Linked DNA regions of Homo sapiens: all the other regions are linked to region 2. Evidence: fine-mapped expression QTL. A gene starts in region 2. Each other region holds a variant in brackets. All regions are shown on one strand. Distances are from middle to middle.

Region 1 (10,091 bases), 110 kb after region 2:
ACGCAAAATGCCTAAAACAAAATGGGGTAAGAAAACCTTGCTGCCCTAAAGCAGCACGTGCTTTCATGGAGGAATGATGGATGTACAATTTTTCAAAACCTTAAGCCTTTTTTTGCTTCCCTCCCCATTAAGAAGAAGAGAGATTTCTCTCCTTTCCACGGCCCAAGGCAGATGGCTAGGGCAGTCAGTCATGTTAGCCTCTGGTATTTTCCTCGAGCTCAACTCTAGGGGAGCTGAGCATGAGAGAAATAACCTTTCTCTCTTGGAACATGTTTTCCTGAAGGTATCCAAGCATTTGCTTCAGGACATAATTGAGCCTGGCGGGTGGTATAGTAGGTCTGTTGGCTTGTTTGTTTATTTGTGATTCATGCTCCCATCTTCTGCCAGAATGGAGCTGAAGAGGCTCACAGGGAGCAAACATCAGGCAGGCCAGGGAGCGAGAAAGCCCAGAGGAGTGCTTGCAAAGAAAGGTGCTTCTTCTGGAGAAGAGAAGCCCAGCAAGTGAATGAATTTCCCCCAAACAGCAGGGAGGGACCCTCCTTCACCTGACGCTGCTTCAACTCTGCCCCATCCCCCCACACTCTGTGCAGGTACAGACTCGTGCAGAACTTTACTTTTTGTTATGTTTTTCTTTTTTTCAGACACCCTTGGAGTTTTCTAACTGTGAAAGGAAATCCATCATCTTCAGTGGAAGACCATATTGAATATCATGGTAATACATAGCTGGCTGGAGGCCTGATTCCCTCCAGTGTCTCTCTGATCAAGAGGTGCAGGGCTTTTCTGAACATCTCACTTTTCTCAGAGCATGGCTTCCCAGCTCCCAATGTCTAGATGAGTGAGCAGCCGCTTAACTGGCCACCTTACATGGAAGTGGCAAAGGCCAATGCTGGCCAAAGGCCCATCACTTGCAGTAATATTTCCCTTTTCATGGAAATCTTCACTGACTTAATCAAAAACCTAGAATTGGCATAGAAAAGATAAGAACTGAGATAGAGCCAGCAGGGGTGGTATTTTAAGAGCTAAAACGAGGCTGGGTGTGGTGGCTCACGCTTGTAATCCCAGCATTTTGGGAGGCCGAGGCGGGTGGATCACTTGAGGTCAGGAGTTCGAAACCACCCTGGCCAATATGGTAAAACCGTGTCTCTACTAAAATTACAAAAAAAAAAAGAATTAGCCAGGCATGGTGGTGGGCACCTGTAGTCCCAGCTACTTGGGAGGAGATTGCACCACTGCACTCCAGCCTGAGCAACAGAGACCCCGTCTCAAAAAAATTTAAAAAAAAAGAGCTAAAGCGACACTTTAGATGGGCCTTCAGGACACAGTAGTAGCCTCCTTTGCCCAGCAAAGGCTGCGGGAAGCGCTGCAGTTCTAATGCCAAGGAGGAATTCAGACCGTGAGACATGCTAGAGCTCTGCAATCTGAATTTGTTGGGAGGCTGGAACTAAACTTTCAAAACTGAAACAAAAGAATGGATGATCATCTCTTCCCAAGTGAATGAATGTCCTAATTTTCTTTTATTTACTTAAAAAATATTTTTAAAGAAATGAGTCAATGCCCATGTGCGTAGGGGGGTTTCCTTGCCTTGGAGTCACAACTTTTTGAATTTGGGGGTCTGTCCAGCTCCTAAAGGGTCTCGTTTCTCTGACAGGACATCGAGGCTCTGCTGCTGCCCGGGTATTCAAATTGTTCCAGACAGAGCATGGCGAATATTTCAATGTTTCTTTGTCCAGTGAGTGGGTTCAAGGTGAGGAGTTTCAGACAATTTGGTGACACCTAACAGTGGGATAGAAGACCAGAAATCACTGTCTTTGCAGAACTAGGATTTATCTCTTATACCAGTAGGACCACTTTAATTTTTGCAGAATCAACTAAAAATGTGCAACCAAAAGTTGTCTTTAATTAGACAAGCCACTTTAGCCCATAGCCCAGAAGGATGTTCTCCTCTGGCTAAGATTTCAATTTCACCTCAGTCAGGGTCTGCGGCATTCAGCTTAGTTCACGGAATATCTTTGATGTGGCAGGCAATGGCACTGAACAGGAAATGCAGATAGGAATAGAACCTGCCCTCCAAATAGCCCACATGCAGGGATTGCAGAAAGCAGCAATCCTAGTTGCAGTCCTTGGATAACGGGTTTACAGATGGATTTTCTTTCTTTTCTCTTTAATTTGCTTTTGCAATAACAAAGAATATAAATTGCTTTTATAAAAGTAAGAAACTCATTAAGAGAAACTCATTTTTTAATTAAAACATGGGAGCATAGGCAGATTGATTAGAGCCATCCATGCCCCAGCCTGGTGCAACCATGGACAGATAATATTCAGTTCCCATGGTGCTGAGGATGCTTGGAGACAACACTGAGTGTGACTTGCCCTCACAGACAACCTCCTGTCTGACTGTGCTGTTTGCTTTCTGCCTAGACGTGGAGTGGACGGAGTGGTTCGATCATGATAAAGTATCTCAGACTAAAGGTGGGGAGAAAATTTCAGACCTCTGGAAAGCTCACCCAGGAAAAATATGCAATCGTCCCATTGATATACAGGTACCAAACTCACAGCAAAAATAGAAAATAGAAATGTGTTGTTTTGAAGAAGACTCTATAGATCACAGACATTCTTGTCACTTGGGTGCTGTGATTCTCGTTGCCCTCCTGTGAGGTAGGTCAGCCAAAGAGTACCATTCCCACTTTAGAGACTGAAGCAGAGGCTTACTATCTGCCCAAAAGCCAGGGCTCAGATTCTCTCCTGGGTCCAGCTTCTGAGTTCCTTCTCTTTAACTTGCTTCTTCAGCCATGACTGAGTGTGCCCCCACCACAGGGATGGGTTTGGACTCCCCAGCCTCACTTCCCCGTCAATTTCCTTAGGGACCTTGAGTGCACAGGATGCAGCTAGGATTTGGGGTGCAGGCCAGGCCAGCCCAGATGGAGAACACACGCATGGCCTTGTTCTCAATTGAGCTAAATCAAAGCCAGCATTCATAGAATGGACAGTGTTTGCTCAAAATCTTCACTTAGAGTTAATTCCATCTGAAGGGGACCTTGATGTTCTCAGTTGGCTCCATCAAGAAAGTGTTGAGTAAATATACAGGCCTCACCAGCTGAGCCAGTGGGATACTAGGCTTTGGGAACAACAGGAGAGACAGGAGAAATAGGCAAAGTAAATGAGATTTATCTCCTTATGCCCAGTCTCATTCCAAGACAAGATTTGAGGCTGCTTAAATGCTTGATAGAGAATTAGAAGTCATTTGAGCTGGGCTCAGTGGATCATGCCTGTAATCCCAGCACTTTGGGAGGCCAAGGTGGGCAGATCACTTGAGGTCAGGAGTTAGAGACCAGCCTGGCCAGTATGGTGAAACCCCCTCTCGACTAAAAATACAAAAAAAAAAAAAAAATTAGCTTGGTGTGGTGGCGGGTGCCTGTAGTCCCAGCTACTCAGGGTCTGAGGCAGGAGAATTGCGTAAACAGGAGGTGGAGGTTGTGGTGAGCTGAGATCGCACCACTGTACTCCAGCCTGGGTGACCGAGCAAGACTCTGACTCAAAAAAAAAAACAAAAAAAAACCAGGCATTTGAGAAAGGCCATCTCCACCCATTTTATCCTCCTTCAGCCAATAAAAATAGCTACCCCATTTGTACAACACTTTTTCCTAGAATATCAAAGCTCGGGTCCCAGGTCAGCTCGAGTCCCAGGCCATCTGTCTGTGCTTTCACCCCGCCACACCATCCTGGGCAGAACTTCTACCCTCTGTCTTGCCTTGTAAGAAGGACCACTTATCCAAGGGAGGAGCCTCTGTTCTGCACTTAGCAAAGTCTGAGGAAAACTTTCTCATTATTTGGCTGAGACTCTTCCCTTCACATGGCTTCAGTGTTATTGAGAAGGATTTACCCAGATTAAGTTTCAAGTTGCAGATTCTCCTTGGGTCCAACAGAATCAAAAAGCACTGATCCCCCACAGCACATTCTTTCCAGATTTAATTTTAATTTTCTCTCATAACCTTGAATGTTCCAGCTTTAATTCTGAAATAGCCATAATCTTATCCCTCCAGTTCACTTGACCACAGGAAGTCTAGCTCTTTACCAACCTCCCCTCTCCAAATACTTCTGGAAATGCTCAAGGAATGCTTACATGGTCTACAAATCTTTCCTGGTGTTTGCTCTGCCAGTTTTCTGGCTCCAGACACTGTTGATTGGAAGACCACCTCTCAGTGCCAGGAAAACAGCATTCCTTAGACATTCCCCACTCTTGCATTTACTTTGCTCCCAGCACAGACACAGGCCCTTCCTAGAGTGTCCCAAAACACAATTAAACCCAGGCTGAGAGCTCCATAAGCCAAGACCTTCATAGGGACCCAACCCTACACTCTATAACTGTTAGTCTGTTGCCATATTGCAAGACCTAGTTTTCTTCTAACAAAAAGAGTTCCCTTGGCAATACATTCCCCAAATTCAAGTTCTCCATTATTTGAGGTTCAGAGAACAGAAGATTCAACAGCAGTGTGGTCCCCTTACTCAGAAGCTTAGGGAAGTCTTCCCACAATGAAAGCATTCAGAACTCCCAATTCCATAATAAGACCTTTGGCTTTTTCTTGGCAAAACCAAGGTCTATTGAGATGGTCATCTAAAAGATAAGAGTCATGTGCCTCCAAGGGTGAATTCAAACCTCCATCTCTACCGAAGAGAAGGTGTTGCCACGCTGGAGAGATCAGGCTTACTCCTAATTCTCGCCACCAATCTTTAATCAATGGTCATCTCCAGACTTAGCTAGAGCATCTCTTCATGCTCATCAAAGGTAAAAATGGTGATGTAGAATATGCTCCTGGATGTTTCCAAGGCCAGAAAAACAAAGCCAGTCTTTCCTATGCTCACAAGAGGTGAGAGAAGCAGGATTTCCCCATTTTTAGCAGGTGACAAATGCATCAGCCAAAAGTTAAATGTCCTAGTTAATTAACCCAGGGAGAGACTAAAATGAAACACAACTCCCCACATGCTCATTTTTGCCACTATTGCAAAAATGCAGTTTTTCTCTGGTCACCTGGTGCCTCTCACCTCCCCGGGCCCTGAGCTTTTACGTGCTCCTCTTCCTGCTTGTGCCTGCCCCCAGTGCCCAACTCCGTGTCATACACAGTGGGTCCC[G/A]GCATACCTGCCATGCACTGACATAGCCAGATCCTCTGGGCCAGGGAGTGTCAAGGACATTTGCAACCTAGGCAAGATTGGAGGAGGCAGGTTGGGAAGAAAGAGGAAGCAGCAAGACTGCACAGTTGACCTTAAGAAAAGCTTTTCCAAGATCTGATATTTTGTGATTCTGAAAAAAATTATAATAACAAAAACACACTGTTTCTATGTCTTGCCCTTCGTTCAGCTCTCCTTGGCTGAAAAATCCTCTTGCCTCCCACCTTCTCTCTTAAAACCCAGCCACCCTTCAAGGCCAGTGGGATCTACTGGACTGAGATTTCCTTGGGGACATCAGGCAGTCTGTGTGTTCCCCACAGCAGCTGGTGCAGTGGCTAGAGGTCGGCCTGATGGTAACAAAAACATATTCTGAAGCCAGAGAGATCACAGCTCTACCACTTGTGAGCTTTGGCATATCAGCAAGTGAGGTGCCCACGGTGCAAAATTTAAGGCAGCCCGCTCCCTCCAGCGCCAACTCTGCACTTGCATGACCCTAAGAGTGGGTGCTGCCTTAAATTTTGTGCCCTGGGTACCTCACTCACAGTCTTGTTACTTAGTGTCTCGTTTCCTCACAGCAAAAATAGGGATAATAATTATTTCCTCATGGGCATGTTTTGTGGATTCAGTGCAATGAAGTGTGCAGACTGAAAAGTGGCCCATACATTTTTTATTATTTAAAATTAATTTATTGGCTGGACTGGTGGCCCACGCCGGTAATCCCAGCACTTTGGGAGGCCAAAGTGGGTGGATCAATTGAAGTTAGGAGTTCGAGACCAGCCTGGCCAAGCTGATGAAACCCTATCTCTACTAAAAATACAAAAATTAGCTGGGTGTGGTGGCGGGCACCTGTAATCCCAGCTACTCGGGAGGCTGAGGCAGAAGAATCGCTTGAACAGGTGGAGGTTGCAGTGAGCTGAGGTGGCGCCATTGTACTCCAGCCTGGGCAAGAGAGTGAGGCTCTGTCTCAAAATAAATAAATAAATGAAATGAAATGAAATGAAATAAAATAAAATAAATTTACTATTAGTTATTATATTGATAATTATTTTGTTAATACTTATTATTACCAAGAATAATAATAAACTCAAGTCTACTTAAAGATCTCTTTCTCTGAATGATGATGGATTCCTTTTACTCTTCTTATCCAAAACTGAGGTCATTTTTCAGGTTAGAAAAAAGGAAAAAAAGAAAAAACAGCAGAATTGAGTAGATGTTCTCCTGGAATTATTGTTGGATGTTATACCTGGAAAAAATCTCCAGCCCCCTTCGATAATGTTTTCAGGCTCAGTTCTCAATCTTACGGGGTCTCCAATTGAAGAACATGCTACCCTCAGGGGAAAACTTCAGGAGGCCCGAGGAGCTGGGCTTACCTTAACTGACCTTGAGCTTACATCTGAACCCCTCTGAGCATCAGCGTTGACCTCCGTCTAAAAGCAAGTTTGCAACCCCTGCCTCTCTGGCTGCTGCAGAGACCACCTGAGATAGGGGGTGTGAGTGTGTTTTTGCAGGAAATGACTGAGTTTTAATTGTGGCTGAACTCACATCCACATGGCTCTTCTTCCAAGCCAAAGATAACGGAGCTGCTGGGTTTAAAACAATGTTTCCTAAAAAGTCTCCTCTTTTTTTTTTTTTTTGACTGGCTATACTTTCCTTCCTTATTACCCCAGTCTGGTCCCTTTGGTCTCTATGCCAAAGATGACAGCAGCTGCAGCCCTTGCTCTAAATTGCATGTCTTTGAATGATAGTCATGGTCAGGATGCAGACACACCCTGGCTCTGGGATGGGCCCCAGCTGGCAGGGATCATGCCCTCCCTGGAGGCCTGCTCCCTAAATTCTCCACCTGGCCTTGTAGCTGCTCACCAGCCAGCCCTCATCCACTGAGACCTCACTCTGTGCCAGGCCCTGGGCTGAATGCTGGGGACAAGGGGGCAAAAACCAGCTCCTTGCCCACCCAGAGCCCACCATGCGGTGGGAGGAGGCAGACATTTGAACAAAAGACATTAGGCGGCTTCCACCTTAGGGCAAGAGTGGATGGGGCTTAGAAGTGTTGTGATGTAGTTACATAAGTCTGGGTTCAAGTTTTAGCTCTGCCACCTACTGGCTTTGTGATCCTGGGTAAGTAACTGAACCTCTCTGAGGATGAGTTTCCTTATCTGTAAAACTAACAGCAGCCTCATAGTTTTGCTATGAAGATGAAATGAGATAATATAGGTAAACATCTAGCTTTAGTGGTTCTCAAACTTTCTTGCCCATTAGAATCACCTGGACAACTTTTCAAAGTCCAGATGTCCATGCTGCACCCCAGACACAATCAAATCTGAGGCTCCGAGGATGGGGACTGGGCATGAGTATTTTTTAAAGACTCCTCCCCATGGGATGCAGAACCATGTTTGGACTGTTGGCCGCTGTTCATGGTGCTGGTAGTGGTGGTGCAAATTGTAAAAAGTGGCCAGCCCAGATCCTAGAAGAGTGGCTACTTATTGTAAATGCTCCGTAAAATGTTCACCCAGCCATAAGCAGTAGATCACTGGTTTCGATACTGAGTACTGTAGGACCTCAGGCCAGGCATTTATCTATTCCAAGACTTTAGGCTGTCTTTCTCATAACAAAACTGATGGGGGCAATCATTGGGATAATCATCTCGGGCCGTTGTAAATAGTGTTGCAGCAGGGACAATTTTAGACTTCTGAGTATATGTTTAGAACATTAATCAGCACCTTCCTTCTCTATAAAAAAAAAACGACTTTGCTCTGTAATTTCTGTGTCATTCCCAGGCCACTACAATGGATGGAGTTAACCTCAGCACCGAGGTTGTCTACAAAAAAGGCCAGGATTATAGGTTTGCTTGCTACGACCGGGGCAGAGCCTGCCGGAGCTACCGTGTACGGTTCCTCTGTGGGAAGCCTGGTAAGCAGCCCCTTGTCGGGGACACAGATGCAACTATGGCTCGGTTCCTTGAACTGGCAGCTATGCAGGCAACTTCCAGACCTCTCAGTGAGACAGTGCTCCCAAAGGAGAGCACTTTTGTGACACGGGAGCAGTGGGAGGATCCTTGGAGTTGGCAGGAGACAGCAGAACCCCACCCTGCCCATAAGCCTTTCAGGAAGGGGAAGGGCCTGGTCCAAGGCAGTCAAGGTACAAATGGACAGAGCTGCCCTCCCCTGCAGAGATGTGCAGTTCTTTGCCTCTTTGGGTGCTATTATTTTAAATCCAGTACCTAAGGTGCTTGTTAGAAGAGATTGGAAATGGTCGGGTTGTTCTCGGAGGCACTTGGCCATCTCCAGAAGGCAGTCATTAGGAATGAAAGTTTAGGGGGAGAAGTTTATGGCTACCGAAAATAATAGTTGAGAGGAACTATATTTGTTTTACATCTTGAGCAAAGTGGGTGGGGTGAGGCAGCCACATTTAACTCCAGCTAAGAAGTTAGTGGAAAATTCCCCCGCCCAGAGCTAATGAATGGCTCTTTTCTGGTAGGGTTTTTGTTGACTTCAAAAACCTTTACCAAGAGTGGGATGGAGCAAGCCAGTGATCTGGGTTTTGGATAGGCAAACCTGGCATTTAGTTATTTAGGGAGGGGAAGGGAAAAAAGAGGTAGCCAAAAGTTTGCCAAGAGCAAAGGGCTCTATCTCAGTCTTTCCTGTTTTGGGTTACAGTGAGGCCCAAACTCACAGTCACCATTGACACCAATGTGAACAGCACCATTCTGAACTTGGAGGATAATGTACAGTCATGGAAACCTGGAGATACCCTGGTCATTGCCAGTACTGATTACTCCATGTACCAGGCAGAAGAGTTCCAGGTGCTTCCCTGCAGATCCTGCGCCCCCAACCAGGTCAAAGTGGCAGGTAGGACTTTTACTAATCCCTTCCTAGACTGGATGAATCTGAAAATTGTTAGGCTTAAAGTAAACTGAAGTTACAACAAATCTGTATCAGTCAGCTATGGCTGTAATAATGCTGCATAACAAAAAAAATCTTAAAACTTCATGACAGGTCTTTATTTCTTACTCATGTATCTGCAGGTTGTCTAGGGATCAGCTTCTCTAGACTGAGCCTGACTCCAGGCTGAGAGTTGGGTTCAAGTCACTTCCATATGACTCCCATTCTTCCCAAAACATATTCTTCTCACGGGGGAGATTGCAAACTCCTAGTGGTGAGCAGAAACACAGAACTCTTAAGGCCTAGGCTCAAAGATGGCACATTCTCACACATTCCATTGGCTAAAGTAAGTCACATGGTAAAGCACAACACAAATAGGCTAGGGAAGCATATGTCTGTCACCAAGTTTGAGGGGGAGGAAGTGAATATTTGTTAGACAGTTATTCAATCTACTACAAAATTTTTAATCTCTTGTATCTGTGAGTTTGGGGTTTTTCTTTTTCTTCTCCTAAATCTTGATTTAGATGTCCTGTAATTTATGTTATTGGAGGTTACTGGAATCACAGATTGTTGAAGGTAAAAAGAGACTTCAAATATAATCCAGGTCAATTATTCTTAGTAGGGGGAGTTATGTATCAATTAGAGTTCTTTGGCTGTTAGCAACAGAATCCAACTTGACTATCTTAAGCAAAACAGGAATTTATTGAGAGGCTATTCAACTTGGAGAACTAAAGGATAAGCTGAATAACTAACCTCCAAAAGGACAGGGAACAGGGTAGCTTCTGGGATCTGGGTAGCAGGAACTAATGGACTGTATCCTTAAGGCATCATCTTTAAGAACCATGCTTAGGCCATGGGACATAGTGCTCAAAAGTCACCTTCCAGGGAGAGAGCATCTGCTTGGGCTGGTGGCTTGTGTGCTCACCCTTTGGCTAGGAAAGGCAGGAACAGTCATTGAAAGTTCTTCTAAGACTGCATTAAATGGATAAATGGCTGTTCCGCAAAGGAAAATTGGGATATATTACCAGAAGAAAGGGGAATCAGAACTTA
Region 2 (10,091 bases):
TTGTGTGTCATTCTAGATAATTTCCTATGCATCCATAAATAATTGCAAATACAGAGTATTTTTCCGCCCCTTCCCTTTTGCACAAGTGGTAGTGTGCAAATGTATCATATATACATTGCTCTATGCTTTAGTTTTTTATTTTACTATATAAAATTTACCCTATTCCTGGCCAGGCACAGTGGCTCACGCCTGTAATCCCAGCACTTTGGGAGGCCAAGGTGGACAGATCACTTGAGGTCAGGAGTTCGAGACCAGCCTGGCCAACACGGTGAAACCCCATCTCTACTAAAAATACAAAAATTAGCTGGGTGTGGTGGCGCACGACTACAGTTCCAGCTACTCCAGAGGCTGAGGCAGGAGAATCACTTCAACCCAGGAGGCGGAGGTTGCAGTGAGCTGAGTTGGCACCACCACACTCCAGCCACAGCGACAGAGTGAGACTCCGTCTCAAAAAAAAGAATTCTATTCAGCTTTTAAACAGCTGTATAATACTCCATCATATAGATGCAACACTATTTAATTAGCCCTACTACTGGGCACTTAGGCTAGTTTGTTGTTGTTGTTGTTGTTTTACTATTAAAAATAGGGCTACAGTGTATAACCTGGTGCTATTTGTTTCACACATTATAGCTGTAAGATAAATTCCTGGAATTGCTGAGTCAAACATTATGTATATTTTCATAAATCTTGTCAAACTGCCCTCCCAAGTTGTACCAACGTAAGTTTTCATCAGTGATGTATGCAAAGGTTGATTCTCCACCCTTACTGGCCTCCTCCGCAGCAGAGGTAGGGTCAAACTTTTGGATTTTTGCCAGCCTGACAGGTATTTCGGCCTAGTATTAATTTGTATTTCTTCATTTATGTGTTAAGTTGAGCATCTTTTCAAATGTTTGTAAACTACTTGGGTCTCCTTTTCCATCGCATGTATGTTATCTTTATAGGAAATGCTCATTCGTGTATTCATTCATTGACGGTGGACTACACGTGGACTTCATGTTGGCCACTATAGGAGCTACTACAGGGTAGATGGGTAAACTTGAGAGACACAGCCCTTGCCCTCTCAGAACATGCAATCTGATGGAAGAGAATAATTTTGAGCTAGCTATTGAAGATTTATGGAACACTTACATACATTTATCTATTTGTGAAACTATATATGTAACTTATACATGGAAAAATGCTTGGCTATATACTGAAATTAACAGAAATAATTTTTGAGTGGAAGTGATTTTTTTTTCTTTCCTTTGTGTTTTTCTGTATTTTTCAAGCTTTTGTAATGTATACACATTATGTTTGATGTTAGGTAATTTCTTTTCTCTTTGTTCATTGTTTAAGTTTTTCAAGGTTGGTTGGTTGGTTGATTTTTTTACAGGGAACATGTGTGATTTTTTGCAATTAGAACAAAAGGAAATAAATAAGAAGAAGACATCATACATACACCGTTTACCTATGTTTTAGACATAAATAAAACACAGGAAAGAAGAGTTCTTTCTCTAGAGTGACGGTGAGTTTGAAGAGGAAGATATAGAAATCCACTTTCAGAGCTGGGATTTGCTGTCATAAGTTCCAGCACAGGCCTTCACTCACCAGAAAAGCTGAGGACATGTCTCTCTTCAGCTGGGCAGCCTCTTCTGTGTCCAACAAGACAGGAATCAACAGCTCTGAGAGCTGGAAATCTGGCCTCCGGATCCAGGCCTGGGAATTTCCCTTTTCTGATGCCAGCTTCAGGCCCAGTGTCTAAGGGCGACCCCTGTTGGTGGGACTTAAGTATGCTCATTATTCGTGAGCTGCTTCTCCAAGGGTGGAGATGCCCAATTCAGTTTTAATTTTTTGTGGGTCTGCTGGAAACCTTGAGGCCCACAGCCCACTCACACACTACCCTAACTACATCCTGCTTCCCTTTTCTCCTTGTCCTCCACCCGTCTACTCCAGGTTTTCCTGGACAACTGGGTCTGGAGGCTTGGCGTATGGAGCCACAGGTGTGGCCAACCTTTTAAACTGTAATAAGGCAGGCTGCTGTAGGGTCAGGTGCTGTCTTTGCTGATCAGCAGGTGGAGTGTGGAGGCCCTTGTTTTAGGGAACAGATGTGGCATCCTGTCAGCAGACTGAGGATGCCAGACTTGGGCAGCTTGAGGCAACAGTGAGCAGGCAGGCCAATCTACTGCACAAGGATGTAGCTGAGGGGGCTGCATCCCACCTGAGGAAGGTGGGTTGGAGGCAAATGCAAAGAATGGAGGAAGGGCAGGCTTTCTGGGTGGCAGGTCACACCATTGATGGGCGTTTCCCTTCTCTCTGGAGACTCTCTGCTGGGAGATTTCGGCAAGAATCAGAAAACTAACACAGCCTTTCTTGACCAGCTCTTTCCTGTCTCTGCATTTATAAGAGCAAGACAATGGATTGCGAAAGTGTGGGCAGTAAATCCACCAGTGTCATGTTGCTATATTTATCCATAAAGAATTACGCGGCACGCCCCGTTCATCACTGAGTGCTGAATGGCAGTGCTGAATGGAGAACTGGCTGGAGAATCTGGTTTTAGACATTCGGAGCCTGTTTGTAATTCATCAGCACTGCTCTTTTCCCCTGGGCATTGGTCTGTGATAAAGAAAACTGGATACCAGAGGAATGTGCTGGGCATTTCAGTGCTTTGAGAAAACATAGCCAAGCACTTCTCAGGGCCCATCCCTAGACAGGACCCTGCCTTTACCACTTCATCTCCCAGATGGCTGTGGAGCCAGCCCCTCACCAGAGAGCTACCTGGCTCCACTCAGGCCTCAAATCTACTGTCTGTTGATGGAAAATCCTGCATGTCGTGCCAAGCCAGGCTGATTCAAGGTCGACCTTTCTCCATTTGGGCCAAATGCCCAGCACCCCCAAACCCCTAACACACAACTCTTTGTGGGTCTGGTTTCTGGGAGCTCCTTAAGGAAGAAAAACATAAACAGGAATCATGGTGAGGACTGGGGAGAGGGGCCCTGGGTCGGGGGGGCTCCATTTTATTCGGCTGGAAAGAAAAGGTTGGGGAGGAGGGCTTGCCATTGGATCCAGTTCATTACTTCCCAATAAATCAAAGAAGGGCTGAGAATCCTGACCACCACCCCCAGTAAGGATCAAGTTCCGCTTTCTGGAAGAGGCCTAGAGGTGGATTGCAGGACTTCCCAGTTTAACCAGGTGACAAAGGCTTCTGCTTCAGCCCAGATGTGATCACAGACTTCCACAGCTTCTGCCGACCACAGCCTGGCCTTAAAGTCCAGACCTAGAGTCCCGGAGCTAGTGTGTACTACACAGAATGGAGACCTTGCCTGAGGAGCTGGTTCTCAGAGAACACTGGCAGGAAGGAAGAAAGAAATGTATATTCTAGGAGGCCTCTGCTAACCAGGAAAGGGGGCTGAGTCACACTCTGAAAGGTGGAAGAGGCAGAGAGCAGGTATCAACGCCCTCATTTTACAGATTAAAACAAAACAAGAAAAACAAACACTCCTCACCTCCCTGCAAAAAAACCACCCTGAGGCTCAGACAGGGGAAGTAGCTGGCCCTGGTCACACAGTAGGTTAGCGGCAGAGTTGAGAGGAGACTCCATATGCCCTAGGGATGTGTTGTGATGAACTTTTCCTACTGGTACTGTTTCCTCCCGCGAGGGAATGTCTAGACCAGCCGCACCTTCTTGCTTTGACCCTTCAGAACTTTGGCCTGTCCAGTTAAAGAGGCACAGAGCCCTCCTACCCACAGGGAATGTTTCTAACTTACCAAGCACCTATTATGTGCTTAGAACTTGGACTTTCCTGATCTCATTTAAGCCTCACCATTCTAGTGAGGAAGCATCACAGAACCCATTTTCCTGATGAGGAAACTGAGACTGGGAGGGGTTAAGATCCTGTACACAGTTGTAACTGGCATGTCTGAATCCAGTTTCAAACCAAGGTGCCTTTCAGTGAACACCCAAGCATCTTCCTCTCGGATTAACTGCTAGGCCAATACCAAAATCTCTTTCTCGGGCTACTCTTTTGCTGCTGAGTTAAAAAGAGATCCTGAGACTTAGCCTGGGACCCCGACTCGCGGCGATTCTGTGGCAGGCGCAGACCTTTTCTCCTGTCCTCCACTGCCTCTTTGCCTCGGAGGGCGCCCCGGGGCGCGAGCGGGGCACGGGCGACCCTGGCTCCTTGGAGGCCCGGGGACTTGCTCTCCGCGGTCCGCCGCGGCCGCTCCACCGAGTCCTGGCCTCCAGCGCCCTCACCTGGCTGCTGCGGGCGGGACTCTGCGCACCCGGGCTCCGCGGGCTCAGGTCTGCGTCTCCCAGAGCCGCCGCCAGAGCCCGCCCCGGTCCGGCCCGGGCACAGGGCCCCCGCCCCACTTGGGCAAGGCGGGGGCGCGTGGAGGGAAGTTTCATCGGGGGGCGAGGGAGGGAGCTTCGGTGCCGCGCGGGCGTCAGGGGCTCCTCGGGGGAGGAGTCAGTAAAAGTGGCTATAAAAGCGGCCTCTCGGCTGAGGGCCGGGGAGCTAGCGCTCAAGCAGAGCCCAGCGCGGTGCTATCGGACAGAGCCTGGCGAGCGCAAGCGGCGCGGGGAGCCAGCGGGGCTGAGCGCGGCCAGGGTCTGAACCCAGATTTCCCAGACTAGCTACCACTCCGCTTGCCCACGCCCCGGGAGCTCGCGGCGCCTGGCGGTCAGCGACCAGACGTCCGGGGCCGCTGCGCTCCTGGCCCGCGAGGCGTGACACTGTCTCGGCTACAGACCCAGAGGTAAGAGGGCCTGGCTGGGGGCGTCAGGGATGAGCTGACGGCCCATGCCACGGAAGAGAGGTAAGAAGTGGGGGCCCGCGCCTCCACCCGGCACAGGGTAAACGTTACCCGCCTCAGTTTCTGTTTGTCTGTCCACCCTGTGCTGTGCAGTCTACCTCTATCTGTCTGTTTGTCCATGCGTCTGTTGATGGGCACACGCTCTTGGCACTGTCCTCTGTGGGATTTCTCTGAGATCTTGTGATGCTTTACAAGCTGCAGGTGCCGGGGGGCGCTGGAGTCCCCAGAGGGCATCCAGAGGGGGCAGACTCCTGCTTTCCGTAGATTTTCCCCCTTCTGAATGGCACCGGGGGCTTGCGCCCGGGAGAGTGTCTCGCCGAGGAGGGAGTACCACAAGGGTCAGGTCTCGGTGTCCTGCCGACTGGGAGCCAGCTCACGCCGAGCTCTAGCGGGCGTGCGCCTAGCAACAGGTCTGCGCCCTGCTGCTCCTGCCTCAGCACGCTCTTCCTCCCAGTTTCCCTCGCCTCCCAGTGCCTCCGGGACAGCGCTAGGCACCCAGCGACGCGCTGGCGCGGGGCCGAGCTGAGGCAATTGCAATGTTAGATGAACCCGGGGGGCTCTGCTGATGTTTAGACTGAGACTCCAAACGTGGCATCGCTGGAAGAAGGTCTGGTGGTCCCTGGCAAAGGACGTCGGCTCCAAGAAAGGTCGCGTTAGGTTGTGAGGAAAGGCAGAGAGTCCTGGCAGAACGCTGGCCAGGTCTCCAGCTCGCCGCTCTGGGAACGAAGGCCAGTGACATTCTGGAATGGACCCCAAGGGATGCGTGTGCTCATGAGAGAGGAGCGCTGTGCGCCCTGGGTCCTCAGCCGCAGACACTCTCTGCGACAGCCGCTGTTCCCCAAGGGTCGGACGCTACGGCAGTCCCAGGAGTTCCGCCAGCTGCCGGGTTTGAGGTCCTGAGTCCTTCTCCAAGCAGCCAACGCTACCCACAGGTGAGAGCTCCCTTTAAAAACTAATCTTCTGATGTGTGAGCCAGTGCCTGGCTGCAGCCCCATACCAGGGACGGTGAGCCGGGGAGCGCGTCTCTCCATCCCTGCGGTCTGGAAAGTGATCCAGGGCGCGCCCGAGGGCGGGGAGCCGGCGGCTCTGCGTGCCCAGGCGCGACGCCACCATGGACAGCTCCCAGCCACTTCCTCCACTCGGGGTCTGTGGCCCTGGGTCTCCGGGGAAGTCGTGCGCTTTCTTCCCAGACCCAAGGCGTTGGGGCGCTGGGAAAGAGGAAAGGGACTGAGAGTCCGCTGGGGCCCTCGGTATTACCACTCAGGAGGCAGCCCAGCCCTCAGGAGTCTGTGGTTTGTGACCAGGTCCTAGCTGAGCCGGCAGTTCTGCAGGACCTCCCGGGGGCACTCTGTGGTTCTCTGGCTTTTCTATGACACCACGGAGACCCCTCAGAGCTGTTAGGAAAGTATGGCCCCTGAGAATCCGACCCAGGCAGTGAGATAATGCCAGATACAATTACGCCAGACATAATTAGGGATCCAGCTCAAACTGTTTTCTGTGTAGGGCACAAGTTCATGTGTTCCATCAAATTAAATTATTTATTTAGTACATATGGGATTGGGAGGATATATTAGTTTTACGATTAATGATAGAATGGAGAAGAAATCAAATAGAGCAAATTTATAGAGAAGGCAATCGGATGCATTTGCAAAAGCAACTATGCGGTTTTCTGATCCTAATAGTTTTGTTCAAAGCCCATGACTTTCTTAAAGCAATTTCCAAAGGCTCCTTTTTAGCCCAGTAGATGACTTTTCAAGTTGGTCACTTGAAACAGGGTGGAAAAACCTGTAGGGTTTAATCTGTGCACCAAATTAAAGATCTCCCTTCTCTGGTAAGAAACGACACTGGATGGGGCTCTTTTTGTCATTTCCACCCATACTGAAGTGTGTATCTTCCTTTATTTTAAAATTACAAGAAACGCAGGTCTGCTTTTTTTGTGTGTGACTGACAAAGGCCGACGGAGAGTAAAAACAAGTAAACACCTCTTATAAAAAAAAATTTTGAGACAGCATCTGTGACTTTGGGAAAGTTGCTCAAATGTTTTGTGCCTGTTTGCTGATATGTAAACTGGGAATAACGCAATGCCATCTTGCAGGGTTGCTATGAGAATTACAGTAATTGGTACAATGTAAAGCATTTAATCCAGTGCTGAGCATAGAGAAATCGTTTTAAATGGTAGCAATTACAGGTATATTTTAAAGACAGTTGTGCATTTCTTTTGAATTATGTTCACCATCCCTTTGCCCTCTCTCTTAACCTAGTAACTGTTTGATAGGGACTCCATCTTCACTTTATTTTTGCATCCGAGAACTTGTTGATGGAATTGATGAAAATGCTGGAGTTGATCACAATGAAAAAAAAATTCTTATTTAAAGACAAATGGAAGAACTTTTATGTGATAAAAATCGGTCAACTGTTTTCCCCTACCTACACTACTTGGAGGAAAGATAAAAGTAAGTTGTTTTCAAAATACTCTCACAGCCCTCTGGTTCAGATGATCAATTTTTCCTGATTGTTCTCTCACAAGAATGCAAGGTCTTCTAAGTGGCTTTGTTGTCTTTCTGCAAGTGAAGTACTCTTGGGTATTGATGGAGAGTGGCCTCTAAGGCCTGGTTTCTAGATCACTCCAGGATGAAGTAGGGGTTAGCTTTATGGAGTGGAACTTTGCCCAGGGGTTCACTGAGTGGTCATTGCCAAGCAGGAAGCACCTTACTTCATGCTTGAGCCTTGCTTAGGTGTGAGATTCTGACCAAGATACTTGCTCTGCCCAGAGCAGTGAGCACTTATTTGATCCCAGCTGGACTGGAGGGTCCCTTCCAGCTCTGCATTTCAGGGTTCTGTCTGGTAGACATCACTAATACATGACACACCACAGAAGTTTGGAGAATGGAATTGTATAGTACCCAGTCTTCCAGTTAGAGTTTTCTCCCCCCACAAAAGTGTGTGTGTGTGCGTGCATGTGAGTGTTTTTATCCCTGTCAGTTTTACATTCTGGTGCTCTTAGATTTTTATTCTTCTCCTCCTTCTGCTCTTAATAGCTCAGAAGGAATCTTAGCTTCTTCCGTCTAAAAGGATTGGAGCTGAAGAATACATGCTACAGATGCTCAGAATCTTTCTATGAGACTGCTGGTGACATGAACAGAGCAGGAGGACATGGGGCCTTGGATGACCTTGAATTCCTGGCTGTCTTCTGTGGACTCCCATGCAGATTCCAGTTTCCAGCATACCCATGGCTTTCTGGTAAGAAAACTATTGAACTACAGGACACTCTTGGAGTGAAGGCCAATGAGGGGAGGAACTGTCATGTAAAGTGGTAGAAACGAGCTCTTCATCAGTCCTGTGGCATTCTGCCTATTGCAACAGTATCTGAGTCCTCAGGACAGACAGAGCAAATGGCAAGAGTGGCATTCAGTGGGGAAGGCCAGCAGAGTGAAAGGGGTGAATTCAATTATTCTCATCAGCCTCCTTTGAAGCCTGCTGCTTAAGTGACCTCTTTTTAGTACCTTCTGTGGTATCGGCAAAGCATCACAATTTGATGGATTAAATGCAATTTGCATTTGCAGTTATAGCTCAAAAGAGAAATGCAAACATGTAGGTTGGGTTCCTAAATGGGAACAAAGTTGTATTTGTGAGTTGCATCCACAAGATAGCATATCTTTGAAAAGTCTGGACTACACATCTCTTTCTACATGATGGCACATACCCAGGTGTTTGATCTTATCAGGGTAAAGCATCAGCTATCTCTCACTGCTTGTTTTTTACCATTATCTGGAGGCAGTTTCAGTTTCCTTTGAACAGTGAATAGGAAAGGATCACATTCTTACTCTCTTGTATCTGGTTGGGTTGGCAGGAGGCTGGAAGTGGCAGTGGGTACTGGGGGAGACTTCTCAGTGCTGGGTTCCTTTCTACTGTTTTGCAAGCTATTCAGCTGGGCCTGAACCTCCTTTCCCTAAAGTCTGGCATGTAGAAACTTTGCTAATTTGAGTAGGATGGTGACTGTCATGGTGACTTTTATTAATATCTGCACCTCTTTGCTTTAGCTACTTTCTTCAGGGGCCATCTTATCCTCTCTGGCAGGCCCCTAGTCCTTCTTTTTCTTCTCTGTGCCCTGGCACCAGGCTTTGTTCAAGCTTGGTTCTTCAGAACGGAGGCTGCTTGCAGAGAAATGTCATCAAATATACATTTGCTGTCTGCTTAGTTCCCTTGGTGTTAGGAAACACACATGGCCACCCAGAGGGAGAGGAGCTGCTACTCCTCTCTGCCCCTGTTATTTTTTAGGGCCTGTCCCTAGACTCAGCTTGGCTCCAGGAATCTGAATCCATCCTTGCCTCCCCACCCCTGCAGGTGAGTGAGCCCTGGGGAGCACAAGCAGTCAGGCCTTCCTTGCACAGGCACCTGCTCAGAGCAAGGAGCTGGACAGCCTGGCTCCTTGCACTGGGATATCTTTGAGTCTTCTGGAAGGGCAGTCATATCAGGGGTTTAGATGCAACTTCAGTTTAAAGTGCTTTGCCCAGACTTTGAAAACCTTTGAAGACCAGGTCTTTGAAAGCCCTGTGAATTTCTTTCTCTCCTGTCAGTAGGAGAGCTGCACCATTAGACATTTTCTGTTACGGAGAAAGCATATCTAGATAGTTGTTCTGGCATGGAAGGTGTCCATGCCAGATTGCTGTCTTACCTGTTTTTAGACATCACACGGAGGAGGGAGGGCCACAGGCTTCCCCAGGAGCCTGCTGCACTCTTTGGCCCTCTCTGAGGTGAGGAGTTCATGCTGTTCTCCAGAGTCTTTATGGCTGTAAGGTATGCACTCAGCCCTTGGGACGAGGAAAGTGCAGTGGCCTGGAGGACAGGCACATTTTTCTGTGGCTCTGCCAGTCAGGAAAGGTGGGAACCATTGGAGTGTTCCTTGGGGACTGCTTGCTGCTTACTGTGACTGTACTCCTTGCCTGGACTATCAGCCAGGACCTGGGCAGGTTCCTTGACTTCTCTAGTCCTTTGTTTAGGGGTTAGGTTAGACCAGTGCTTCTTAGACTTAAAATATGCCAGCAACTCACAGGGGCACGTGTTAAAGTGAGAGTTCTGATTTGGCAGATCTGAGGTAGGGCCTGAGAGTCCACCTTTCCAACATGCTCCCAGGTGACGCTGCTGGTGCACAGAGCTGCCTTCAAGTCGTGGGGGCCTATGTCATTATGACATTGATGACTTTCTGTGATTCTGATTCCAATTCTTCTTGGTGTAATTTAAGTCAGTTCCCGTTGTCCGAGTTGAGGAAGCCCAGCTGGTCTGTGCCCTCCTAATGACCT
Region 3 (10,091 bases), 160 kb after region 2:
TAACAGATGATCTATCTTATTTATGGCTCCATCAATTTGATTAAGGGAAAATTAAAATTTAGAATCAAAAGTATAAGTAAAATGTTGGGATGGGAGGGCAATAAAAAACACCTCTTTCCCCACACAAGTGCTACGCCAGCTGGGGGCAGACAAGCTGGCAGGGGAAGAGGAAGTGATCCACCTTACTGATGATAAAGCTGTTGGAGAATAGAGCTTTCCAATATCATCCCCAATTTTACCTCCTCCGCCCCAGGGAGCACTGGGCAATTACAGGCTCCCCACATAGGGCCCAGCCCGAAAACCTCAGAGCATGGAAGACAGACCAGAGTGCCCCTGCTCTACGGGCTGAGCCAAATACCCAAAACCAACCAATTATATGAGACACTCTCTTCCCATGGGAAGAAGTGGATGAGGGGAGGGCCCAGGGGCCAGGAGTATTTAGGAAAATCCTCCCATATGAATACCAGAGGAGGAGGAGTGAGATATGCCCCACATACCACTAGGAAATATTATGATTAAAGTAACAGATGTTGATAAGGTAAAGTCCCTGGGATACCATCCATGCAGATTTTCTTCTTTCCGGCTCATGAGTGAAATGTTCAAAAGATGTGAATTTTTCAAATGGAAACTTCCACTAAGTAAGTTGAACCTCTTTGATCAAAGTCTTAAAAATCTAAGGCTGGTCTGCTTGTCACCTTAAGCACATTTTTTGGTTGGTAGCATAGCTTAGCCCTATGCCTGTTGATCATTGTGTTGTGTTTCAATTCAGCAACGCCTTAGGGACCAGGAGTTGGGTTATAGGGGGTCTGTTTCCTATGGAGAAGGGCTGCAAACTCTTGGGCTTTTAAAAATCTTTCTGCCTTATACGTTTGTTGTTTCTTATACTCAGAGCACCTGCCTTTAGCAGCTACCTTCTAATAATCTACTATGGGCTAGGATACTTAACAACCAGCTTGCTATAATTAGGGGTAAAATTAAAATAAGTCAGCTAAAAGGGAGGGGATTTCAAAGTGTGAAATATATAAGCTCTGAATCATCTCTCATTTTTTCCAGGTTAAAAAAACTGTTAAGTGATTGTAGCTGTGTTCTGGATAGCTAAGTTTGCTTAATACCACCTCAGTGAATTCTTATAATGATTCTTACTAAATTATAAACAAGTACATTATTTAAGGTGCACAGCCATCAGTAGCGCTGCTCTGCAACATTACTTGGTCATAGCCAGGATTTGAGCACTGGGCTGGCAGATGCCCAGGCCCGTGCTCCTTTCATGCCTTCCAGGGCTTTGCAGTTCAGCCAGCTTGCACACATCCAAGTTGTAGGTCAGGATTAGGGAAGGCAGCTGCTACCTACCATGGGCTGGATGGTCTTTTAGGTCACTCCCAGTTTAGATAATCTGATATATAATGGCAACAAGGAAACCTGAATACTGTTAAGTTTTGTGCAGAAGCCTCAGGACCAATCCCATTTCTGTGCTTGGTCCCAGGAGTGGTTTGGAGCATGTTGGGAGCCTCCAGGGAGACGTGACCATGGGCAGCACTGAACTGCCTTCCTCCTAAGCTGCTCAAAGCGGGTGCTCACCTGCCTCCCCAGCTTCCCCACCACGCAGGGCATGGAATGCAGATATGGCTGCTCTGCTCTCAGCCCTGAGCACGAGGCCTCTGTAACAGTCAGTTTCTACTTTACTCTGAGATCACTTGATGTGGATGGCTTGAAACATAAAGCCTCTCAAGGAAGCTCAGATTAAGTGGAGGTGCTACAGAGAGAAGACCAAGGGGTCTTCAAGAAATAAAAACCCAGCTGGGCCTCATGGGCTCAGGTGCTGACAGCAACCAAGACAGCAGGGAGGAGGTAGCCTGCCTACCCCTTGTGTCTCTCCATCTCCCCATGTTCACACACATACGCACACACGCATGGCCTCTTGTTTCAGCTACTTGCTGCAAACTGCCTTCCTCTCGCGATTCCTTAGCAGGCATGGGGCACAACAAGGTTGTCAGCCCCAACTCCATGTGGTCTTTTAGTTCAAGCACCACCCGGTGGTGGACAAGACCTGCTGGGTCCCATAAGAGCGAGAATCTTGGTTACTGGTTGGCCAATCCATGGCCCCTCTGTGAGTCCAATGTGTGCCCCTGGTCTGAGCAGCTGTGTGGTAGGGGTTTGGGGGCGAGGGCATTGTGGTGCAAACCCAGCTCCCTAGTCTGACTGGACTCAGTGAAGGGTTGGTCCCCAGAGCAAGATGGGTGGTAGATACCCCATATCCTATCTTCCCATGTTTCAGATGCAGGACTCAGCCTGAAAGCGCTTTTCTGCACTAAAAGAACAATAATGAATCCCAAGTTAGTACTGTGTTTTCCTCATAATCTGACTCCCTGTAACACTGGGTCAGCTTCCTTTACAATAATAATTATTATTTTAAATAAATTATAAATAATTTTTGGAATAAATTATGGTTTGGAGAAAACTAGAGATAGGAAGACAGAGCATCTCCTCACCGGGCACAATGCTGGGATGGAAAATGCTGGCTTTGTCACTTCCCAGCTGTGTGGTCCTGGGCGAGTCACTTCACTTCTCTGAGCCACCATTTTCCCATCCAGGAATTCAGGATGATAATAGTACCTACTGGACAGGATTGTTTGAGGATTAAATGAGATATGTCGATTTACGATGTGTGCACGGCGTGGCACATAGAACGTGCTCAGAATAGAATTGCCATTCTCATTAGCTTTTTCTTCAATGCATTTGTTCCTTATTTCTCCAACTACATGCAACTCGGTGGTAGACATGGTTCCATTCTATAAGGCCGCTGGGTCTACCTGCTATGACCAGCTCAGAGTAAATGTCTCGGTGGGTGGGAGGAGAAGAGGGAGGTTTGAGTGTCCAAGCAAATGCCCAGCAATGCTCCTTGTGTGCAGGCTGTTGTTCCTGAAGCTGAAAGCTCAGAACGAGAGAGAGAAGTTTGCTTTCTGCTCCATGAAAGGCTGTGAGAGGATAAAGATTAAAGCTCTGATTCCAAAGAACGCAGGCGTCAGTGACTGCACAGCCACAGCTTACCCCAAGTTCACCGAGAGGGCTGTCGTAGACGTGCCGATGCCCAAGAAGCTCTTTGGTTCTCAGCTGGTGAGTGGCTGAGAGCAAAGCCTAGACCCCTTTGCCGTCCAGTCGGGCCTAGAGCCCTTTGCCGTCCAGTCGGGCCCAGACCCAATTAGGTCCCTCACTCAGCTCCATAAACCATTTCCTGTGACTGGGGATACGGGAAGAGGAGGGGAATGACTACCCAAACCTAACAATTACATTGGGTTCTATGTGTTTTCCAGAAAACAAAGGACCATTTCTTGGAGGTGAAGATGGAGAGTTCCAAGCAGCACTTCTTCCACCTCTGGAACGACTTCGCTTACATTGAAGTAAGTGCCTCTGGCCCCTGGAGGATTCGGGTTTGCTCATTGAGAGGTGATACTGTGTCCTGCGGCTGCTGGCACAAATTACTGCAAACTGGGAGCAAGGTGTTGGCAGGGGTGGTTTCCTCCAGGGGGCTTGGGGCGGGGAACCTGTTCCATGCCTCTTCTCGCTCCTGGTGGCTGCCAGCACTCCTGAGCATTCCTCAGCTTGCAGACACATTAATCTCTGTCTTTATGTGGGCTTTTCTCCTGAGTGTCTGCGTCTCACCTCTCCTCCTGCCTTTCTTTTGCAAAGGCACCTATCTTTGAATTTAGGGCCCACCCTAAAAATCCAGAAGGTTTAATCAAAAAATCTTTTAACTTAATTCCGTCTGCAAAGATTCTATTTTCACATAAGCCCACTTTCACAGGTTCCGGGTGGACATAACTTTTGCAGGGCCACTATTTGACCCACTACTGAGGGCTACGAGGAGTTAAGTGGATAATGGAGTTTACGCTTCAAATAGATGCATAGGCAACTTCTGCCTTCAGGGTCTGCTTGGGAACCACCTGGGCAGGAGAACCATGGGGCCTTGGCACCCTGCCTCACACCTGGATTGCTCTGGCTCTGTAGGTGGATGGGAAGAAGTACCCCAGTTCGGAGGATGGCATCCAGGTGGTGGTGATTGACGGGAACCAAGGGCGCGTGGTGAGCCACACGAGCTTCAGGAACTCCATTCTGCAAGGCATACCATGGCAGCTTTTCAACTATGTGGCGACCATCCCTGACAAGTGAGTCTGTACCTCTGCTTCTGGAATTGGCTGCTGGCACAGCAGACCCCTGGGCAAGGGCCCCCTCCCTCTCACAAAGGCCCTCATCACAGATCAGTCTGGAAAAGCTCAGGCAGTCTCCACAGCCTGCCCACAAATCATGGGTGTTGGACAAGAGCGTCCTTGCCTGTGGACTCTGGTGTTGGAGCTGGGCTGCTGTGAATGTAGGTCAGGCGGAGGCAGGCGGGACAGCCCCGCTGCACATGGGAAGGTTGCCCTGGCCCTCTTCACTACACTCCCAGCATGATCTCATCCCCTCCCACACCTTCAATACGATCCAAGTGCTGGTGGCTACTATCTCCAGCCCGGATCTCCTTCCTAAGCACCAGACATTCCAGTCCAACTGCTACTTGGACAACGCCACCTGGACATCTTGTATGGAACTGAATTCTCAGCCTTTTAAAATGTTTAACCTCCCAAACCAGCCACTCATCCTACTTCTTCAGTTTTGATGAAATCATCACAATTCATCCTGATAGCCAGGCCAGAATCTGGGCATTCTGTTTGTCTCCTCTTTCTTTCCTCCACATGCTATCATCACACCCTATCAATTCTGCCTGCAGTACTGCTCGCCTGCTGGTTCCCTCCACAGCGTCCTCTCTTCTGCCACTCTGCCCCGGCCTTTGCTGTTCATCACCAACACTGTTGGCACAGTCTCCTAACGGGCCTCCCTCTTCCAGTTGCCCCAACTCCAACCCATCTTCCATATTGGCCGCTGGTTTAAACTTCTTAAATGTAGGGAAAACCTGTGTCCCCTCTCCTTAGCAAACTTTGGTAATTCCCCAGTACCTTACAAGTCTCCCCACATCGCCTCCTCGGTGAGGTCTTTTCCGATCCAACCCAAAAGTTCTACCTTGGCAGGGCGCATTGGCTCACACCTGTAATTTCAGCACTTTGGGAGGCCGAGGTGGGTGGATCATGAGGTCAGGAGTTTGACATCAGCCTGGCCAATATGGTGAAACCCCATCTCTACTAAAAGTACAAAAAAATTAGCTGGGTGTGGTGGTGCACACCTGTAGTCCCAGCTACTCAGGAGGCTGAGGCAGGAGAATCGCTTGAACCCAGGAGGCGGACGTTGCAGTGAGCCGAGATTGCGCAGCTGCACTCCAGCCTGGGTGACACAGCAAGACTCCGTCTCAAAAAAATAAAAAATAAAAGTTCTACCTCTGCTAAAGCACTACTCACAATAGGTCTGGTGGACACATCTGTTGCCCCATCAAGAGTGTGGCCTTCTCAATGTTGGGGCCATG[T/G]CTAACTTCCCTTTGCATTTCTAGCACAGAACATGGCTAGTTAAGTGAGTGTACAGTTCACTCAGGAGCCACAACCTGGTGGAAAGTCTAAGCGCTTCATGTGGTACCTGCTACATAGTAGGTGCTTAGTAAACATTAATAGTTATTAAATGAAAGCAAATGTACTTCCCAGATGCTGACTCCATGAGGGGCACGACGTGAACTGGGCACCTGGCGAGATTTTGGATAATGGGATTTTGCTTAACCACATTTACTCCCTCCCTCATTCCCCCATCAGATGCTTCTTCGGCATTCTATTTTTCATATGCAGATTCAGACAGAGGACAAGGTTGACCAAATTGGGAAAAATAGTTATCCTCTAGAGATCATGACGTTTTGGGCAGAGAATTTTCTTTTGAAATGAAAGATGATGCAGAAGCTTGGAATAAGAAACTAGACTGCAGTGCTACTCTGTTTGGAACCATGTGCAAGGCTCCCACCAGCCCGAGCAGCAGCACCTCTCTGGGGGAAGCCCTTACTGGAATGGGCCACTCCCTGGGCTGGCGCTGGGCACCCAGGCAGGCATTGGTACCACTAGACCCCTCTCTAACCTCCTGGAAAGCAGCAGGGAATGAGGCAAGGTAGATCCTGTTCTACTGTGGCTGCGGGCCCTGCCTAGCCTGGCCCATGCTTCCTACCCCATCCAGCAGGCCACTACTGGCCCCAGGGTCCTGGGGAGAGAAGAGGGCAGCTGCTCACACCAGAAACATCTAGCATGGCTTCTGGGAGCTGCCTCTGCACTGCCACTCTGTGGGAGACTGTGCTGGCTGGGGCATGGGCTTATAGGCCATGAGGATGGCACACCAGGCAAAGAAGTGTTCCCAACATAGGTAGGCAGGCTTCTGGGCATCAGTGGGAAGGGGTGGGGACACAAGAAGCCCATCTCTCTGTCCCGCTCCTGTGAGCTAACTTAGATCCCCATCAGGAGGGCAAGACCTACATTTGAGTCCCCCAAGTAGGAAGGCTGAGCTCCAACAAAGGACCATTAGCTTTTGTTCTGAAATGAAACAATGCAGAAATATCCTCCTGAGAACAGATCCTGAATCTAGAGTGGAGGATGTGTTAGCAATGAGACCTGTCTCCTTAAGGGGCCTCACCCTACCAACCCTTTGGGCCTCCCTCTCCAGCCTTCCTCAAGGGCCTGAGGCAGCCCCAGCTCCCTTCCCATCTATCCTTATTTCACACAAGCCCTTCGCATCTTAAGATCTTTCCCGCTGTTCCCAGTGGGACACAAATGGGGGTAACAACAGGTTCCAGAATCCTATACAGTTTTTCCATGTCTGGACTGTGGTCTGTGGTTACAGAGTTCCTTTGAGATACAAACTGGACGCCCCATTGAGCTTCTGCCCCATTTCTATTCCCAAGGGAGGTGCTCACTTCCTCCTATCTGGCCCAGTGTGCTGAGTCTGCCACTGTGAAGGCTATTTTCCCAGCACTTTGGACTGAATACACCCCGAGGCAGGGGATAGACACTCCTTATTCCCAAGTCGAACTTTTGCAATTTGGGACCTTCAGGCTGGGTGCACACATTGCTCCAAACCTCTGTGTCTTTCAAGCACATTTCCCTTTGGTAGGTCCTCTGAGATACTTGGTAACTATTTGCTTCAATCTCCCCATTTGCAAAATAGAGGCAATAGCCCTGTGTTGCCTAACCAGAGAGAGGTGACGTGAACGTAAGAGGTCAATCTGAGCTCTTGGTACAACCCGAGCATCATGGTAACGACATGGTGTTCTCCCAGAAAGACTTCAAACCTGGCCATGCTCTTCCTGCAGCTCAGAGAAGGCTGGCTCTGGACTACACTAAGCCTGTGTCCATCAAAAGAAGACAGCAAAAGAAAGATGCGCTCCAAGAGAAATCTTCTAGCATGGGGCTTCTCGAGCTTTAATGTATACATGATCACCTGCAGATCTTGTAAAAATGCAGATTCTGATTCAGGAAGTCTGCAATGGAGGAATTCTGTGGTTCTAATGAAATCCCAGGGGATGCCAAATGGAGCTGGTCTCTAGAACCTTCAGGATCTAGAACCTTCAGGAGCTCCTGGATGGTTTTATGATTTGACAGATGCTCCCCTCCGCCTTCCCGCACCTCCTCTCTTTCTCTTCCCTTTCTCCTTCCTTCCTCCATCACCACATTTCTATCTGGTCTTACCTAACCAGGGTTGAGAACATTCAAGGGAAGAGATACATATCGAAGTCCTACTGTGTGCCGAGCCCTGGCATGGTACGCTCTGCTTACATCCTCTCCTCTGTTTGGAGAGAGACATGTAAACGCGGTGAGCCAAGTCCAGGCTTGGAGAAGGCTGTGGGCACCAACTGTGGCCAGATGTGTGGGAGGGAGCTCAGGATGTTCGTCACCACATGGAAAGAGCCCGTCAGCTCAGAACACAGGAGAGGCTGCCCTTTCCCGAATCCCTGGACAGGCCTCTGGGCACTGCTAACTCCAGTCCCACCATGCACAAACCAACATCCCTCCCCATGCCCACTTTCTCCAGTTTGCTCTCTCCCTCTGGTCTAATTGGTTTCTTCTCACACAGTTCCATAGTGCTTATGGCATCAAAGGGAAGATACGTCTCCAGAGGCCCATGGACCAGAGTGCTGGAAAAGCTTGGGGCAGACAGGGGTCTCAAGTTGAAAGGTAAGGGTTTGAACTGGGGTTTAAACTGACCCCAAAACCAGAGAAGGCAAATGCCTGGCATGGAGGGTGCTGTCATCTTTTGCTGAGTTGAGAACATGCTTTGTACTAAACGTGGGTACAACCTAAGAATCCCCCACACAACTAGTGGTCTACTGGAATGGATGGGCAAGATGCCACCTGTTTACCACCCCTGCACTGCAGCAAATTTATTATAACTTGCCACCAGCCACTGAAAGAAAATTGCTATATTTGTTGACTCATTTGCTTGGAAAGTGGCCCTTTATTCAACAAAAGTATCATAAGAAAAGTGGCTTAGTCTCACCCTCCTACCCAATTCCTGCTATTCAGACTGGCCAGGGGTCCTGCATCTTCTTCAACATTCTAGCTGATGCCTAGCGTTTGTACAGTCCTTTGCAGCTTGCAAAACTCTTATTTGTTCCAGAAAACTAAAGCCCAGAGAACCTACATGGCTTGTCCAAGGCCAGGCAGCTTCGGTGGTGAAGCCTAGCACAGGCTTGCTGGCTGTGCTGGAAGAAGCCATCCAGGAGGGACATGTCAGCATGACACCCATTATCATCACAAAAACTAGGTGCAGGGAGAGTCCTCAGAGAGGCTGTATGGGCGGCAGAGAAGCTCCACGGGCAATAATGATAATGATCATTGTGGTTGCTATTCAATGTTCAGCCTTGCACTTTGCACAACATGTTATAATTATCTCACTTACTCATTAATAACCTGTGCAGCAGGTACTATTATTTCCATTTAAGATGAGGACACCAAGAATTTAACAGCCAAGCCACTTGCTTAAGGTTAGGACTTGGATCCTAATCTTCCTAACTCAAAGCTGGGCTTCTTAGTTATACACCATCCTCACTATGGAAAACATCAAAATCAGAAACCCATCATATGGGGCAATGAGAAAAATCAGAAGCAATGCAAACCCTTCAAACCAGCCAAAGGAGGACATAAGGAAAAGAGAAGTATCCTTTCCAGCCCAGTCCTGAAATCATTTTGGAGCCTCTGTCTTTTAAATTAAGATCCCGGTTGCCAAAAGCTGATGTATGTAAGGTGACCTAAGTTGAATGGCACTTTCCCGGTGGTGATAAATGCATGTTGCCTGCCAAGATGGGCTGAGTATAGACGTGGATTCCCATGCCCCTCGGATGCTCAAGCTGTGAACTGCAAGATGGAGAGTGCTGTGTGGGTTTCAGGGGTTTAGAGTTCTAATCTGGGGTGCACCATTTACTCCACACTCTTGGTCAAATTTCTTCACCTCTCAGAACTCTTTCTAGAGCCACAGAGTGATAGAGTGGGGAAGGAGATCTTGTAGATCAATGCCATCATTTGATGGATGGGAACACTGGGCTTCAGAGAGGGGCAGGGACTTGCTGGTTGTCCTAGGGGCAGCTCAAAGGTAGGCAGGTTCCTAGGAGGTCTCCTCCCTTACAGTTTGCCCCATTTCCTGCTGTGCATGGCTCCCCTGTCTACAACAAAGCCATCACCCTGCCTAGGTGGCAGTGAGGCTCAGGTGAGACCCTGCCTGCCCCATACAAACACATGTCAGGCACCATCAGTAGCTGAGCACAGAGCTCTTCCCAAGGGGCCACAGTGCAGTGTGGCTAGGCGGTACCTGGTGGGCGTGGGGGGCTGGCGATGGGGAGCCATGGAACGGGGTGGGGCAGCCGTCCTCTCATAGGGCTTTTGCTCAGGAGACTCATCATTGCTTTTCAGAGCAAATGGCATTCGTTGGCTTCAAAGGCAGCTTCCGGCCCATCTGGGTGACACTGGACACTGAGGATCACAAAGCCAAAATCTTCCAAGTTGTGCCCATCCCTGTGGTGAAGAAGAAGAAGTTGTGAGGACAGCTGCCGCCCGGTGCCACCTCGTGGTAGACTATGACGGTGACTCTTGGCAGCAGACCAGTGGGGGATGGCTGGGTCCCCCAGCCCCTGCCAGCAGCTGCCT

Which allele goes with the higher level. Alleles are on the strand shown, and positions count from the first base shown. SD is a standard deviation of normalised expression in the study named.
In carriers of allele A in region 1, the expression in cerebellar hemisphere of the gene that starts at base 4,490 in region 2 tends to be higher than with G alone (moderate effect, 0.55 SD a copy in GTEx).
For the expression in lymphoblastoid cells of the gene that starts at base 4,490 in region 2, allele G in region 3 goes with a higher level than allele T (large effect, 1.1 SD a copy in GTEx).

What was found.
Region 1: its variant is fine-mapped to the expression of CEMIP in cerebellar hemisphere (GTEx, PIP above 0.99).
Region 3: its variant is fine-mapped to the expression of CEMIP in lymphoblastoid cells (GTEx, PIP above 0.99).

The regions. Positions count from the first base shown.
Region 1 is chr15:80,887,053-80,897,143 of GRCh38, forward strand. It overlaps CEMIP (cell migration inducing hyaluronidase 1), which reads left to right. Exons shown (of 30, transcript NM_001293298.2): 8 at 642-712; 9 at 1,649-1,744; 10 at 2,419-2,540; 11 at 7,938-8,070; 12 at 8,817-9,008. Among named protein-coding and RNA genes, the nearest start is that of MIR549A, 50 kb to the left of the region's middle. The variant G/A (reference allele first, on the strand shown) is at 5,128.
Region 2 is chr15:80,774,881-80,784,971 of GRCh38, forward strand. It overlaps CEMIP (cell migration inducing hyaluronidase 1), which reads left to right and starts at 4,490. Exons shown (of 30, transcript NM_001293298.2): 1 at 4,490-4,734. RefSeq lists a silencer at 4,112-4,391 and an enhancer at 5,012-5,517.
Region 3 is chr15:80,938,940-80,949,030 of GRCh38, forward strand. CEMIP (cell migration inducing hyaluronidase 1) reads left to right here. Exons shown (of 30, transcript NM_001293298.2): 26 at 2,910-3,114; 27 at 3,312-3,398; 28 at 4,006-4,163; 29 at 8,026-8,126; 30 at 9,858-10,091. The coding sequence ends at 9,985. It also overlaps a transcript of MESD not described here. Among named protein-coding and RNA genes, the nearest start is that of MESD, 46 kb to the right of the region's middle. The variant T/G (reference allele first, on the strand shown) is at 5,453.